Regions from separate parts of the Homo sapiens genome. Here region 1 is linked to region 2. The links come from fine-mapping of genetic effects on gene expression. A gene starts in region 2. The other region holds a variant in brackets. All regions are shown on one strand. Distances are between the middles of the regions.

Region 1 (8,346 bases), 130 kb before region 2:
GTTTTCCATTTTCCAACTTTTTTGTGTGCTCAAAATTTTGTTGTGAGTACTGTTAATCTGTGTTTTATCCTGGGATTTTGAGATGCTTATATTTATCTGTCACTTTTGTCATCTATCTTGTGGGTAATATTTGAAAGTCTCAGTTTCTGCAGATCACAGCTGGGAATTTAATAGACAGCTCTTTACTCCTTTCATTGTGAGCTGGCCGCAGACTCACTTTGTACATTGGTGTGTTTGGGAATAACAGAAAAATAAAGAAAAACCAAGGATAAAGGCAGAGGTCTAAAGACTAGGAAAATAAGCATCAAGCTCATTTTGGTGACGATTGTGAATTGGCCTAACTTTACAATGCCTACCCATTTCCCTCCGCTATTCATTCATCATCATCATTAATTTCTCTCTTCATTTGCTAAACAGATGAGTAGCAAGGGAGGCAATAGAATTAAACCCGAACAAAAAGGCCCCTTTCTCCTCAATCCTCAGTGTTCCTTCGAGAATAAAGACTTTAATGATGGGAGGTCCATTTCAATTCTCTGGAGCCAATGCATTTCTACCTCAGTAGTCACTGCTTTCGGCAAAAGGAAATGCCTGTAAAGGGGTAAAGATCCGTTAACTGACCACTTCAAAGAGAATTAACCTGCCAGAGGAAAGGGTGAATGTTTTGCAAACTTAATCTTTCCTGGGCAAAACCGCATTATGAAGTGCTGGCCAGGCACTTTCTTGCCTTCTTTGGAAAACAGGCTTTTTGTGTCCTTAACTTCACAGCTAGAGACACATATATCCTCTCCAGCACCTGATCTCTCTCCCCTGACTTGCTTGTCTGTGTTATTTCTTTGCAGAGCTGCTGCACTGTCTATCTACCTGAATCATCTTGGCTTCATCTTACAAATTAGCTGCCTAATTAGTCTTCCAGAAGTACAGATTTGATGACGATATTTTGCTACTCAAAAAGCTTTAGTGGCTTAGCTTTATGTAAACAACAAAACTTGGACTTTCTGGCTTAACCTTCAAGACTTTCTATGACTTAGCCTTATTCTACCCACCCGAACATTTTCTGCCTCCCCTCCCTGCCCCTGCATTTTTAAAAAGTCCACTTCACTTAGACCAAACTTAAACTTTGCTTCCACACAATAGTAAGTTCCTCAAGGACAGGATTTTTGTCTGTTATATTTACTGTTGTGTCTCCGACACCAACAACAGTGGCTGGCTTCTTGTAGGTGCTGGATAGACACATAAATAGAGGCTGAATTGATGGAATGAATAAACGGCCATTTTCCACATTTCCCAGACTCTGTGACTTTGCTTACTTCTTCTCTTCATGAATAAATATTCAGCCTTTGTTCAGAACCTGTTAATAAACCACCTCTCCCATTTAGGCAATATCAGATTAGCTGAAGTAAATCTCTCCCTTCTGTTAGTTCCAATAATTCTTTATATTCTCACAATTCTCAGTCACATATTTTTGTCACTTTTATCTTTCAATTATAACTGTTTAGATGCATGTCATATTTTTTTGACTAAACTTTAAGCTCTTTGGGCAGAATGCACATCTGAATTATATTTATCCCTCCCGCTATTCCCAACCACTAGTTTATAGTAATGATTCTAAGATATCATCTTGCAGGTAAAAGTCACTCAAAAAAGCACTTGGTTAAGAATTTTTTATTTTATATTGTCACTTCCTGTTTTATTAAAATATGTTGTAAAATCTTTGCGGTCAAAGATATATCATTCAGTACTCTTTTCTTGCATCACAGTCAACTTCATTTTAATGAAATAATGATGGTTTCATTAATAGTTACTGAATTATTAAATATATTGGTAATGGATTATTCTTCAGCATTTTAGGAAATAAGAAACCATTTACATCCAAACCCATAGAATCCACAACAACAAGAGAACCTTACTGTAATGGACTTTGGGGGATAATGATGTGTCAATGTAGGTTTATTGGTTGTAAGAAATGAACAATTCTGGTGTGGAATTTTGGTAGTTGGGGAGGCTATGCATGTGTGGAGCCAGGGAGTATATGCGAAATTTCTGTAACATTGTGCTCAATTTTGCTGTGAAACTAAACCTGCTCTAAAAAATAAAGCATATTTTAAAAACAAAACAAACAAACAAAAAATGCATTTACATACATACCTCTTCCTTTATACCCTGCTGCTAAGTAGTTTTAAGACATTTTTCTTCCAAACTGAAGCTAACGGGAGTTGAAGATGAGAAGGTAGGAAAATATATCTTTGCCTTTGGTTTAAAGTTCCTGTGTATCCCAGGCAATAGAACAAAATAATATTAACACTTATTTCGCTGAGGGTAATCTCATATTTATGTATTTCCAGAGTATTTACAAATAGATGTGACAGCACTATACCAATTTTTGGCACTTTTTTTTTCCACATTGCTGCTGCTTCATTTATATATTTAATTTTTTGACTATTTATACATATGAGTTCTGTATTAGTCTGTTCTCACATTGCTTTGAAGAGATACTCAAGACTGGGTAATTTATAACCAGTTCTGACTCACAGTTCTGCATGGCTGGGGAGGCCTCAGGAAACTTACAATCGTGGCAAAAGGGGAAGTAAACATGTCTTTCTTCACATGGCAGCAGGAGAGAGGAGTGAAGGGGGTAAAAGCCCCTAATAAAACCATTAGATCTCGTGAAAACTCACTCACCATCATGAGAACAGCATGGGGGAACTGCCCCCATGATCTAATCACTTCCCATGAGGTCCCTCCCCCAACATGTGGGGATTACATTTCAGATTACAAATCAAGATGAGATTAGGGTGGGGACACAGAGTATATTATTCAACCCTGACCCCTCCCAAATTTTGTCTTTCTCACATTATGCCTTCCCAACAGTTCCTCAAAGTCTTAACTCATTTCAGCATTAACCCAGAAGTCCAAGTTCATAGTCTCATCTGAGACAAGGCAAGTTCCTTCCATGTATGAGCCTATAAAATCAAAAGCAAGTTAGTTACTTCCTAGATACAATTGAGGTACAGGAATAGGGTAAATACACCCATTCCAAATGGGAGAAATTGGCCAAAACAAAGGGGCTGCAGGCCCCATGCAAGTCCAAAATCCAACAAGGCAATAATTAAATCTTAAAGCTCTGACATAATCTCCTTTGGCTCCATGTTTCACATCCAGGTCATGCTGATACAGGAGGGGGGCACTCATGCCCTTGGGCAAGTTCTTAGGGGAGAAAGGAAAAACCAAGAATAAATGAAGTGGAGAACAGTTTCCAGAATTCACAAAAAGCAGGCACATTTATCTAATAAGACATGTGCCTGCAAAATTACAGCCTTGATTCCTGACTTGGTTATTGCCCTCCAGGGCCTGCTTCTCCAGGGAAGACACATTTTTCTGCAGGCTTCTTTCCCTTTGTTCCCATCACTGAAGGCAATAATCTATGCAGAGGAATCTTGGATTTGGCCAAAGGCTCTTTTCAAGATGTATTGATTGTAATCAATTGAAGATTTCTGAAAAGAAGATATGCATGCAGCATTTAATGAGTTGACGTTTAGCTTCATGGTCTTGAAAATAAATGATAGTGAGAATTATCGGCATTAGATTGCCAAAAAAAAAAAAAAAAAAACAAAACAATAAGAAAAAAAACTGTAGAGTGTTCCATGGTTACAGGATTCTTCCTTTTTCCCTATTTTCCTTAACTTCTCTTCATGGGGGTATAATTATGTTTATTCATGCCACTGATATTTGATTACTCCTGGGTTTCAAAATGGCTATTCTTTCACAAAACTTTCCTTCTGAAAGAGGAACTATATGTATTGTTATTTTCCTTCTGAAAGAGGAACTATATGTATTGTTATTTTCCTTCTGAAAGAGGAAATATATGTATTGTTATTTTCCTTCTGAAAGAGGAACTATATGTATTGTTATTTTCCTTCTGAAAGAGGAATTATATGTATTCAGCAGGACTTTGGGAGCTCGGAGACCCTTATACGTAGGCACCTGTTTTTCCTGAGATGTTAGCAAGTATCCTTGGTGAACGAGGAACGTGCTGCTTTCTAATATACCATAAAAGAGGGTTTGTTTAGATTCTCTTTCAGGAAAAGAAGTTAGAGATTAGACATACTGAGGTTGTCCTAGCTTCGTGGAGAAAAAAAAAGTTTCTTAAAACTGCTTCCTTAAAATATGGCACTGTCCAAATTGAATCATTGTATTAC[A/G]CAAGTGCTATCTAGTTTTCAAATCTAAATGTAAACAGATGGGGGTGACAAATAGATTCAAACATCCTCAAAGTATGAGTACGGAGACTTAACAACCAAATAGAGGAAAGACTGAACCTATTAGTTAACCCTAAAATTAATCCACATTCTTAATTTTTTAAATATTTAGTATTTTTACTGTTTCCATGCATTCTAGGAATTATAAAACAAAAGCCCCAACGTGAAAACAGGGCTCTAGTTCTATTTATGGTTTTTCTCACTCAAAGACAGAAAAGACTGAAAGCATCTATAAGTCCTATTTCTCTAATTCCTGGAGAGTGATAAATATTTAGCCAAACACATGATTACTCATTTGAATGTTTCAAATAGACTGATGTTTTGCCAACATAGAAACCAAATCTAGTTTTGGGTGGTCATAGTTTTACAAGTTAGTCACTCACCAATAAGCATCCATGAAAATTGAGTTTATCATTCATGTACTAATTTATTTATTCATCAACTTATTTAATAAGTATATATTTAACGCCTATTATGTGACAGGCATTGTCCTTGCTGCCTGGATACTGAATAGTCAACAGAATAAATCTGATTCCTGCCCCCCAGGGCAAGAAAACAGCCTGTTGAGGAAAACAGATATGAAACAAAACGAAAGAAATAAAATATTGTCACAGAGGGCTGAGAAATAAAAGAGCAATATATTGATGAATAAAAACATATGCCATCATACGTAGATAAATTTGGAAGCATAAACATCTGTCATCATACACACGTAGATTTAGAAGCATTACCCTCTATTCCTTCTATAAGAAAACACAGATATTTGTTACCTAGAGCAAACATTTTGTAATCTGGCCCTGCAGTGTTATAATTTACTGTTTTGCTGGCCCCCTCATTCTCTCTATAAGGTTCCATGAGTGACTTGGGCACTGGTCTTCCCTACTTTCCCACATGATCAAGGGAATTCTCATTCTACAACAAGTCCTAAAAAGTCAAATCAAACTCCACTTCGACCAGTCAAGGCTATTGTCTCCTTGACCGACTACTAAGTTTTCATGCTGAATGGTGCATGCATCTCTGCAAATTGTTCTTCTTTATTCACCACTTTATGGCCCACTTTGTCACCTGCTATTATCTGCTCACTTCCCAGATTTTGCTCCTACCAGCTTTCTTGCTAATCAGGTTTTTTTTTTTTTCCCTGTTTCTAAACATACATCTCAATGTCTGGTGTGATCTTCACACATTTCCCAGTCACCTTCCTCAGCTAAACCTGTCTACTTGGCAGACAAGCACTTTGGAACTTCATATCTACTCTTTCTCATGACACTGACATATTCTTTTTTTGGCATACAAATGTCAACAGGTAGGATCAAATGGAAAAGAGGTGTGAAAGGTTAATTCCCCAATATCAGCATCAACTATAGGAAATGTATTTGCAGAGTAACAGCTAAGCGGAACTCCTTGAATGAACAGTGCTCTGTGACAACTATTGAATGAGAACATTTCTGTCACAATGAAGACAAAGGTTGTTTCAATGTCATGGGTCACTGGGTGAAGAGCAGAGAAAGCCAGTTCTTCATGCTTATACAAGAGCCCTTCAAACATGGGAAGCCAATGTTACAGACGAGGGTTTAGCCAAAGAATGAACAGTTGTTGCCAAAAATCAAAGGATTTTTTTTGAAACCCAATTTTTGATCTTAGTTAAATCCCTGTTTGGGATACAGGACCAATATCAGTCTGTCATCATCATGCACAAAGGAAACTATAAATTATAAACGCATCTACGTAGAAAACAAATAGAATTGTTATGTACATTATTAGGGAAATCATATTATCAGTGAGTTTGCTTCCAGAATGGAGGCTGTGTAAATAAATGGATTTTACAGGATGAATCTTTATTAAAAAAAATATTGTAGATCACCTGAGGTCAGGAGTTTGAGACCAGCCTGGCCAACATGGCAAAAACCCGTTTCTACTAAAAATACAAAAAATTAGCCAGGAGTGGTGGCGTGTGTGCCTGTTGTCCCAGCTACTCGGGAAGCTGAGGCAGCAGAATCACTTGAACCTGGGAGGTGGAGGTCACAGTGAGCTGAGATGGTGCCACTGCACTCCAGCCTGGGTGACAGAGGGAGACTTAGTCTCAAAAAGATAATTGTAAAATTGTAGGGGAGAAGAGATTTTTTTTTTCTCATCCATTCATTGTTCAATTCATGACTGAGACCCTGGTAATAAAAAATTAGATTAACAAGAGAAAAGCACACAAATCTATGTAGTATAAGTTTTACTTGACATAGAAGCCTTCAGAGATGAAGACCCCTGCCAAAAAAAAAAAAAAAAAAAAAAAAAAACAGGGAAAATTGTGCAGTTTTGTGGACAATTGTGCAGAAGTATGATTAGAGGACAAAAAGTTCTGACCCAACGGTAATAAACTGGGTAAAACTTAGCAAGACCTGTTTGTTCAGATTCTTCTCTGTGTCTTCATTCCTTTTTTCTGGGTAGAGGGAGGGCTCCTCTGGAATGAGAATGATGACCTACTTTAGAGGAAGGTCAGATAATTATTTTATGGTCTGCTTCAGGGCACAATGGCAGGAGAAGGCCAAAGAGATGTCCATCCTGCTTCTGCTGTTTTTCAAATGCCAAAGTGCCATATTTTGGGAAAACATATTCTGAACTCCATTAAAATGGAAATGTTATTTGTTAGTCTAAGCTGAAAATAAAGTAAAATAAACCTCTAGACTCTTCTTTTTTTCAAAATGGCATCCTTCCAAATTCCTCCGTTTATCTCTATATTTTCTTTTCATTGATTTTTTAGAGACAGGGTCTCACTCTGACACCAAGGCTGGAGTTCAGTGACACACTCATCGCTCACTGCAGCCTCGAACTCCTAGGCTCAAGTGATTCTCCGGCTCAGCCTCCTGAGCAGCTGAGATTATAGGTGCATTCCACCATAATCATTATTTAAAGTTTTTGTAGAGACAGGGCCTCTCTATGTTGCTCAGGCTTCACTGAGATTAATTTGCAATGGGAAAGACTTCAATTAAGCAGAAAGAAGATCTTTCTTAATAAAAGATTCATAAGAATTTGCTTCATGATTTATTCATTTATACTCATCTTTTAAAAATTATTTGAGATGACTTAAAAGAGCATAAAATAAGAAAGTAAAGATAAATAAATGAAAAAAGGGTAAAGAGCAAACAAAACAGGAAACAAAGTTGAACCAGGGATAAAGGTAGTGTTCCTAAGAATGGATTGGATTCAAGTATACTAGTAGGGAAGACCCCATGTGAGAGAATAATCAGGAATGTAATCCACAGATTCTGGGAGCTCAGGAGACACAGTTGTTTGTGTACTGACATCCAAAGAGGGTTTCTGTTGTGCAAGTCTAAAAAGAAGACATAGTGTGATGGCATAAACAACATACTCAACAATATTAGTTCAATAAGAAAAATAGAAAATGTTATACATTTTATTTTGGCATGCTATATTAGTTTCTTGTTGATAGAACAACATTGCTACTATAACAAATTAATTCAAATGTAGTGGCTTTAAACAACACATATTTATTATCTAACAATTCTAGAGATAGAAAGTCTGAAATGAGTGTTAGGGTGCTAAAATCAAGGTGTTGGCAGAGCTGTGATCCTTTTGGAGGCTTTAGAGGAGAATCCATTTCTTAAATTTCCAGCTTCTAGAGTCTGGTTGCATTTCTTGCTTACTGGCCCATCACCCTGACCTCTGGTTCAGTTATTAGAGAACTCTTTCTCTCTCTGATTCTAACCCTCTGTCTTTGTTTTGCAAAGACCATGGTAGTTACACTGGGCCCGCCAGGATGATCCAGGATATTTCCCCATCTCCGGTTTTGTAAGTCCCTTTTGCTGCATAAAATAGCATATTCCAGGAATGAGGATATGGCCTTCATTGCGGGGTAGTTATTCAGCCTAGCACACATGCCTTAATGTAGGCAGATGATTGGGTGATAAAAATGTCTATGTACGCAGCTCTCTGATACTTTTCAATATACAAGGAAAATTAGGAGAGTTCATAGTATATTCACATTTTACCACCATGAAAGGAAAATCTGTTCTGGCAGTTCTAGTTTTCATTTTGATAATAAGCAGTAGGTAACTATTCTGGGTTCAAAGAGTTTATCTTC
Region 2 (8,346 bases):
TTCTTAGGTAGAGCAAATTAATTCAGTCTCAGCGGTTTCCACCTTGTATATCTATAGTTTAAAACCAACTTAACAGGCTGAGCCTGGTGGCTTACGCCTGTAATCCCAGCAGTTGGGGAGGCCGAGGCTGGTGGTTTGCTTGAGTCCAGGAATTCGAGACCAGCCTGGGGAACATGGTGAAACTCCATCTCTACAAAATAATACAAAAATTAGCCGGGTACGATGGTGCATGCCTGTAGTCCCAGCTACTAGGGAGGCTGAGGTGGAAGGATCACTTGAGCCTCAGAGGCAGAGGCTACAGTGAGCTGAGATCATGCCACCGCACTCCAGCCTGGGTGACAAAGCGAGACCCTGTCTCAAAAATAAAATTAAATTAAACCTACTTAACAAACAAGATACCTAACAATTACCAGAAATTTCTGTCATCAAAAGACAGAGGAATATTTATATGATAATTTTTATTTTCCTCACTTATCTATATGCCTCCAGTCCTCATCCCACTTGCTGCAGTGTTTCCAGCTTTTTGTAGCATCCTCCCAGTTATTCTGGGAGTTCTAAATGGATATTTTGCATGTACTCATGAAGTGCCTTCAGTTACCAGATGATATCCTCCATCTTCTTCTGTTTTTGGTTTTGTCCCCTGTGATATTTCCAACTGTTGTGGATACCTTTGCTGCCTACATAGTTGAGTGAAGGTGTCTTGGCTCTGCTTCCAGGAGCTACAGCCAAGTGCCCTCCCTCCTTTTAGATAGAGCTGCCACTTCTATAGGCCTGATGATAGTCTTGATCCCTAAAAGTGCCTGAGCAGAGTCACAGAATATGGCACCCTTGGTGTGGTGAATCACATTGTGTTCAGAACACAAAGTAGGAGAATACTTTCCCACCCCTTTTTCCCCTATAAGTGGTTGTATAAATACCAGAGGACTATTTCCTTGAATCTCATTGCCTGGTGGTATTTTTGAGAAATAAATACTATTTTTTTTCATATATTTTGATTTTATTGTAGAGCAGGAGTGATGATCAAGATATCTAACAGATGACATGGCATAGGACCAACCATTTAGAATATTTCTAAAGTATAATCCGATTAATCAGATTGGCTGTTGGTAAGCATATCTTACCATACTGGTGCATCCTGATTTAATATTATCCCTGTTTTGGAAGATCATAACATGAATCTGTGAAAGCCCTGGGTTTCAGAGGAAAGGGACCTCTGAAGGGGGAAGTCACCATGTTGTTCTTGTTCCCTAAATTATAAGAAATATTTTCTCAATACTGAAGTATTGTCATAAACAATATAGCTCAGTGGGAAATGAATGTGAGCCTCACAGTTAGATGGATTGAGGATCAAATTCCTGTTCTGCCTCCTAAGAGATCATAGATCCTGGGCGATTAATCTCTATGGCTCCACATTTCTCATCAGCAAAATGGGAATAATAATATATAATATTACATAATTATGGGGGTTCTGTAAACATTAGATGAGAAAATTATTTGTTAAGTGTTAAAAAATACTATGAATTATTATTGTACTTTGCTCTTGCGTCTAACTCATTCTTTAGAATAAGTTTGGCTTTATCCTCAGTTCTTCATGCCTAGGGATTCTAGGCAAACTCACCCAACAAATGCAATGAATGTGGCCAGTCATGTAGTAACCAGATAGAGAGTCAGGAAGTTGCATCAACTGAGTCATTAATCAGCTCATTCATTTATTTGCTTATTCTTTCATTCCTTCAGACAAAGTGCATAGTGAATGTTGAGGAATCAATGATGACAAAGAGAAGATCACTTTAGCAGCTCACAGCAAAAGCAAGAGACAGATAAAAAAAAAGGCAACAATTAGCAAGCAACGTGAGCAGTGCAGTTTTGGAGACATGAGGAGAAGGTTATTGAAATTTAACACAGAGAGCATTTATTGGACCTGGAGAAATTAAGAAAGCTTTACCAAAGAATTATCAAAGACTGTTTCTTAGGATAGATTTAGGCACATTAAGTTCTGGTATAAATGGCTCTTGGTCCCTTTGGAAATTTCAGACTAAGTGGGACATTTACTAGGACTCTTTGTAAATATGAGATCAAAACCTTAAAGCCTACACTTCCTTATTCCAGATCTCTAATAAAACACAAAGCTTTTGGGTTCAAGCTACCACAGAATTCAATTGAACAGAATTGTTTAGTTCTTTATAAATATTTTATCCTTCATGGAGGTGTGGTAGATGAATTTTAATTGGCTTGTTCTTATTACTCGCTTATTATTATTATTATTATTTAGAAAGGGTCTCACTCTGTCATCCAGGCTGGAGTGCAGTGGCAATCATGGCTCACTGCAGCCTCAACCCCCTGGACTCAAGCGATTCTCTCACCTCAGCTTCCTGAGTAGCTGGGACCACAGGTCCTGGGCGTGCCACCACACCTGGCTAATTTTTATTTTATTTTATCTTGGGTAGAGACAGGGAGGGTCACCCTATGCTGCCCAGGCTGTACTCAAAATCCTAGTCTCCAACGATCCTCCCACTTCGGCCTCCCAAAGTGCTGGGATTACAGGCATGAGCCACTGAACCCAGCCCTACTCCCTAAATTTTAATGCATCCTGAATTCTGCCCCATTTCTGAATAATCAGCAACACACAACAGTGTTGCTGTTGCTTAGATGCATGATCCCAAAGACATATTATCTTTAGTGTGTCAGGATCCTTAAATGTACCTACAGTCTCCTTAACTGGAGTTCCAAAAACACCGGAGTCAATTCTGCACATCCTTGTGTTTTCTAATTACTTAAAATTCATCTTCAGACATTTTTTTTCAGAATGACACTAGTACTTCCAGTGTTATGGTTTAAGGTTGATTTTGTTTTTCTGCAAAAGAAATAAATCAGTCTCTACATTTTTCTCTGTCTCTTTGTCCCTCGACCCCTCCTTTTTTATTTGCATTTCAGGCTTCTCTTTCTTAGTGTCTACTTTTCCCTCAGGAAATTGTGCATTCCTGCTTTTCATTTATTCTAATTGCGAAAATTCACATGGATAAGGACACAGAGACGTACACAGACACACACGTGGAGGAACAGATTTTTAACAGTCTCGGCTATTTAAAAACACAGGAGCACTTTAATAGAAACCTCACCACTCATCCATTAGTCTTCTGCCAATTTTCTGCTGTATTTAGTTCTTCGCAAAACACTTCTAGGTGTCGGGTTTGGACTCTCTTCTTTCCATGGATAATTTTCAAATCAAGCATTATTGGAAAGTGTTCTTAGACAACCTGCATTTTGCCAGTGCACTTCATCTTTGTGGCTGTGCATAGGTTACCTGTCACTGTGTGTGTGCGTGTGTGCGTGTGTGCGTGTGCGCGCGCACGCGTGTGCTGGAAAAGGCCTGAATCACTTTGGAGAGATACTCTGGTTTTAACAGTGCTTTTTCTTCTAGGTACGTCACTTCTCCTGGTTTAGGACTGTAAATCAATGCAGCTGGAGCGCTTTTGAAATTGCTTTCATTCCTTGCAGAGATTTCCAAAAGCAGGCTGGCCTGGTGGTTTGAAACAGGCTCTGAGTCAGTTTGCCTGAGTTCACATACTGGCGCCATCACTTGCCAGCTCTGTGAATTACATCCTGTTAGCCTTTCTGTGACTCAGTCTTCCCATTGATAAAATGGGGTTAAACGGATGATATCCGTGATCTTAGGTTTGTTGGAATGATTAAGTGAGATAGTGTGTAAGGAGTGCTTCGCCTGGAAAACAGTAAGGTCTTAATGCATGCCATTATTATTGTTGCACAGGAGTGATACATGACTCAATGAGGAGACACGCAAAAGTTCAAGAGGCTGCAAAAGTGGTTCAAATATTTTATTGCTGTGTTTGGCATAACTTGCTTCCATATCTGTCCAATCAGAAATTTGTTATTTGGTGTGGAAAGGACTGATGAATCTCGGCAAGGTTTCTTTCCCCAAGTAAATCGCATTTGTTCTGGAATTTGTTTTGACCTCTCCTCTAACTTCTCCCTAAATGCCCATCTCTAACCACTACGGACCTTCACCCACTGCCCTGTTCTCCTTCCAAGACATGGGAGATGACAGCTGTGGCTTCTGTTTTCACACCATGACTGCAGTTGTCTAAAAGCCCTCCCAGTTCCTAATGAAAATCCCAACTCATAATTCAGGTTTTCTGCATCTAGTAAAGATCTCAAAGCCGTTCCCTAAATTCTACAATTATTGCCTGTTTATGTTTATGGGTCCCTTTGTTCAAATGTTTATACGCTGCCTGTGGGAAATCATCTTCTGATAATTTTTCTTTCTTCCTTCACAGAAGCACAGAGATGTCTCCTGTACAGCCCATTGCTGGCTGTTAGCACACCTGATATATGCTTGTTCTCACATAGTATGTCTGTGCAGCCACAGGAGGTTTTTATGTGGAACTTCCACACCAGTGTTAAAGACAGCCATAGCCACCAAAGAGATCCTTGTAAAATACAGGATTAGGATATACCACAGGAATTAATAATTCTCAAGCCACTGCTTTAAATTGTAGCCACATTGTTTTTGTAGGGAAGTTGCTCAATTTATATACACAGAACATGAAGGGTTGCATTCTGATCAGGACACCAGTTTCATTTAAGAACCCTATACCAAAAGGTACTTAGATAACCCTCTTTAATATGCACATACTATATTGCTTTGTGCAACATATTGCTTTGAGCAACAAATGATGCTAATTTTCTTGCTAATTTGATCCTCTCTGATTATTTTCTTCAACTCCTAAAAGTCTAAGTGAATACAATGAAAGAATACCATCTGTAAAAACTGTTTTTTAACATATTTTTCCTCAGAGTCAAGAATACATGTTTTTTAAAGACATTTAATAATGATATGGGTTTATCATTCTCTATCAAAAATAATTCCATTGGACATTATGCCAATTTTCTTCTTAGGGTCCCTCGACTAAATAGTAACTTTAAAAACATACTGCTAGTTTGCTATATTTTAGTAGGTCAGCATGCACACCAAAAGTGTATTAAGGTGGACTGCTCTATTTATTGATTTGCCATGAATCTGCTAAAGGCTCAAGGCAATTGTCTGTGGAAAGGGGCGGGAGGGCCATACATGATCGAGGTCATGCGCATCTAGCCAATTTGTAAGACGATCCCGCCGCCCTAAGCCATCAGCAATCCTTAGTATAGGGGCACACTCATGCATTCCTGTCAAGTCATCTTGTGAAAGGCTGCCTGCTTCCAGCTTGGCTTGGATGTGCAACCTTAATAAAACTCACTGAGGTCTGGGAGAAAATAGCAGATCTGCAGCAGATAGGGTAGAGGAAAGGGTCTAGAATATGTACACGCAGCTGACTCAGGCAGGCTCCATGCTGAACGGTCACACAGAGAGGAAACAATAAATCTCAGCTACTATGCAATAAATATCTCAAGTTTTAACGAAGAAAAACATCATTGCAGTGAAATAAAAAATTTTAAAATTTTAGAACAAAGCTAACAAATGGCTAGTTTTCTATGATTCTTCTTCAAACGCTTTCTTTGAGGGGGAAAGAGTCAAACAAACAAGCAGTTTTACCTGAAATAAAGAACTAGTTTTAGAGGTCAGAAGAAAGGAGCAAGTTTTGCGAGAGGCACGGAAGGAGTGTGCTGGCAGTACAATGACAGTTTTCCTTTCCTTTGCTTTCCTCGCTGCCATTCTGACTCACATAGGGTGCAGCAATCAGCGCCGAAGTCCAGAAAACAGTGGGAGAAGATATAACCGGATTCAACATGGGCAATGTGCCTACACTTTCATTCTTCCAGAACACGATGGCAACTGTCGTGAGAGTACGACAGACCAGTACAACACAAACGCTCTGCAGAGAGATGCTCCACACGTGGAACCGGATTTCTCTTCCCAGAAACTTCAACATCTGGAACATGTGATGGAAAATTATACTCAGTGGCTGCAAAAAGTAAGTGATTGCTTTCAGTTTCTAATAGCACGGACCTTTTTCCTTTCTTGCACTGCAGCTAACTTAAAGTTCCTTAGGGGAGCATTTGTGTATTTACCTTTTGCTCCAGGGGGGCAGTGTTTGCAATTGCAAGACGGCTGTCTGGGTTTGGCTTCCTGGGTAAGCCAAGGTTTGGGGGCTTGCCCAAACCTATGAATGTGTGGGGGCACCCCGTTTGTGTGTCTAGCCCTGGCAAATTTTATGACATTTTTGGTTTCTCTTTTCTAAAGTTCAGCATTAAGGTTCTCTCTGTCAAAACACTACCTTAAGAAAGAAAGTATGTACCTCTTAAGCAAGTTGGTGAAAAATAAATAATAATGACAATATTAATTAATAAGATCAAATCGATTTTGCACCAGAAAATTTTGTGCCGCTGGGGTGGCAAATCATCACAAAGTATTTGTTTTTTTAACCTTTATAAAAATTAACATGAAGTGAGAGTAAATATAAAATATGATATTTGGTTGGAGAAATTGTATATTTATGTAAAGGGAACTGTTAGTTTCAGCAAGTGGTAGAATAGTAGACTGATTTCTGTTAAATATTTTTTTCTTCTGTCCTTGAGAAAAAAAATTAAAAAGATACATTGTAATGTTAACTGTCGGAAAGGGGTTGCTCGCTCACGATGAGGGCATGCTGGCTGTTGAGGAAGACATGCACCTGCAGATATGGGCTGAACGCAGCATGTAGTCTACTATATTCCTGAAATACCTCCCTTCTCAGGGCATTGTAGTTAGAGACAGTACCTGGCGAGTTTAAGTATCCATGTTATTTGATGAATGTTAATGTTGAGTATGAATGTAATCTCAATTTATAGAAATCAAATCGAATAGTTTATCCAGTTATTTATCTACAAACCATTTAAGTTTTTGTTGAAGATAAGCCTATTAAATTATGAACACACTTCTGCAATTCATTCTGTCTTTGCACTCTGTTTAATAATAGGCAGCCGAGAATAAGTATATTCAACTGACTATGCTACTAGAAGGGAGGCAATGTCTCAATTTGTGAAAAGCTTCTCTCCCTTGTTAATGGATTCACTTGGTACATGTAGATAGGTATGCAATCAGGCTTCTTTAAGTTAGTCTGTTAACCGGGCAATCCCTTTAAAAAGATAAAAGATAGGGAAAGGACAAATGCTCTATTTTGTTCCTGTGTGGTCACACTCACTTAGGTCATTGCCTGCTGAATCATGCCAAGTAATAGTTATTCTACTTTTGTCCACTAGGGACTGAACTAAGATCACTGTTATTTTATTTGACACATTAACTGGAACTTAGTAGTTCTACAGTTTCCAAAGCTGATATTGTAATCTTTCTATTACAGACTATAGGACTGTAATAGGCAATCAGTAGGTAGGCAGAAGAATAAAAAGCAAACAGAACTCTCAGGTTTTTTACAATTGTAGCTGAAATTTTATGCATTACTTTCAGTAGTAGTTTATAATAGGATGTTTGTATTTTTCTTTGGTAAAATTTATTTCCATTGTAAACAAATGATTTTGGTTGAACAGCTTGTTATTATTCTTCAGTACACCATCCGTATAGTTTTTAGTGAGAATTCAATCATTACATATTAGTCTGGATTCTTTGAGGGAACGGGAAGGAAAATTTAGTCCCAAGTTATCCTGAATGATCTATTCTACCAAAAACGTAATGTTTTGTTTGCTTAAAGCGTATAATCACAATAGTGATTCAAACATAGTAATGCATATTTCTTGTTGCTATGCAATTATTCAGCAGTGACAGGGTAAACACATAATTCTGCTGGGCTTAAATCATGCACGTGTTTCATATGTTAATTTATTTTGCAAAATAAATTTGATTCTTGTTTGCATTGTTCTTGGTCAATGATTATGGGATAGCTTTCAGATTATAGCCAAGAATAACTATTAAAATGTTCTTTGGTTACATTCACCCTTTCAAGTGTAAAAATCAAGCTGAATATATGCTGAAAACGTCCCTATTGGTATGAGTCAGAGCAATGTGGCTTGACTATTGTCAGTTTAAATTTGCATATCTTTTGTCATTGTCAATGTGATTGGTTGGAGGATCAAGAAACCAAAAAATGCATTCAGCAAAGAACTTGCTAAAGGCTTTCATAAGTTTCCCTTAATTAGGAGTTTTCTTCACTCCAAGTTCTAAACTTCATGTGATATTTTTATTCTGATAATTGAAATGGAAATCTTTTTACTGTAACCATTTGGTATGCTCAGTACTGCAATTTGTATTACTTCTATTTTGATTCCAAGTAGTTGCCATAGGAAGAAGCAACACCCTGCAGAAACTGAGGCTATCAGTGTATGTAGGTGAAATTAATTTATCCATTTATTTGGCAAAATAATTAATCAAAGCATAGTGATTATTATGCAGCTCAT

The links. PIP is the estimated chance that this variant, and not a neighbour inherited with it, causes the effect.
Region 1: its variant is fine-mapped to the expression of ANGPT1 in whole blood (TOPMed, PIP 0.99).

What each region holds. Positions count from the first base shown.
Region 1 is chr8:107,628,111-107,636,456 of GRCh38, reverse strand. No RefSeq gene overlaps it. Among named protein-coding and RNA genes, the nearest start is that of ANGPT1, 130 kb to the right of the region's middle. The variant A/G (reference allele first, on the strand shown) is at 4,197.
Region 2 is chr8:107,494,846-107,503,191 of GRCh38, reverse strand. ANGPT1 (angiopoietin 1) reads left to right here and starts at 5,274. Exons shown (of 9, transcript NM_001146.5): 1 at 5,274-5,930. The coding sequence starts at 5,634. RefSeq lists a silencer at 1,575-1,775.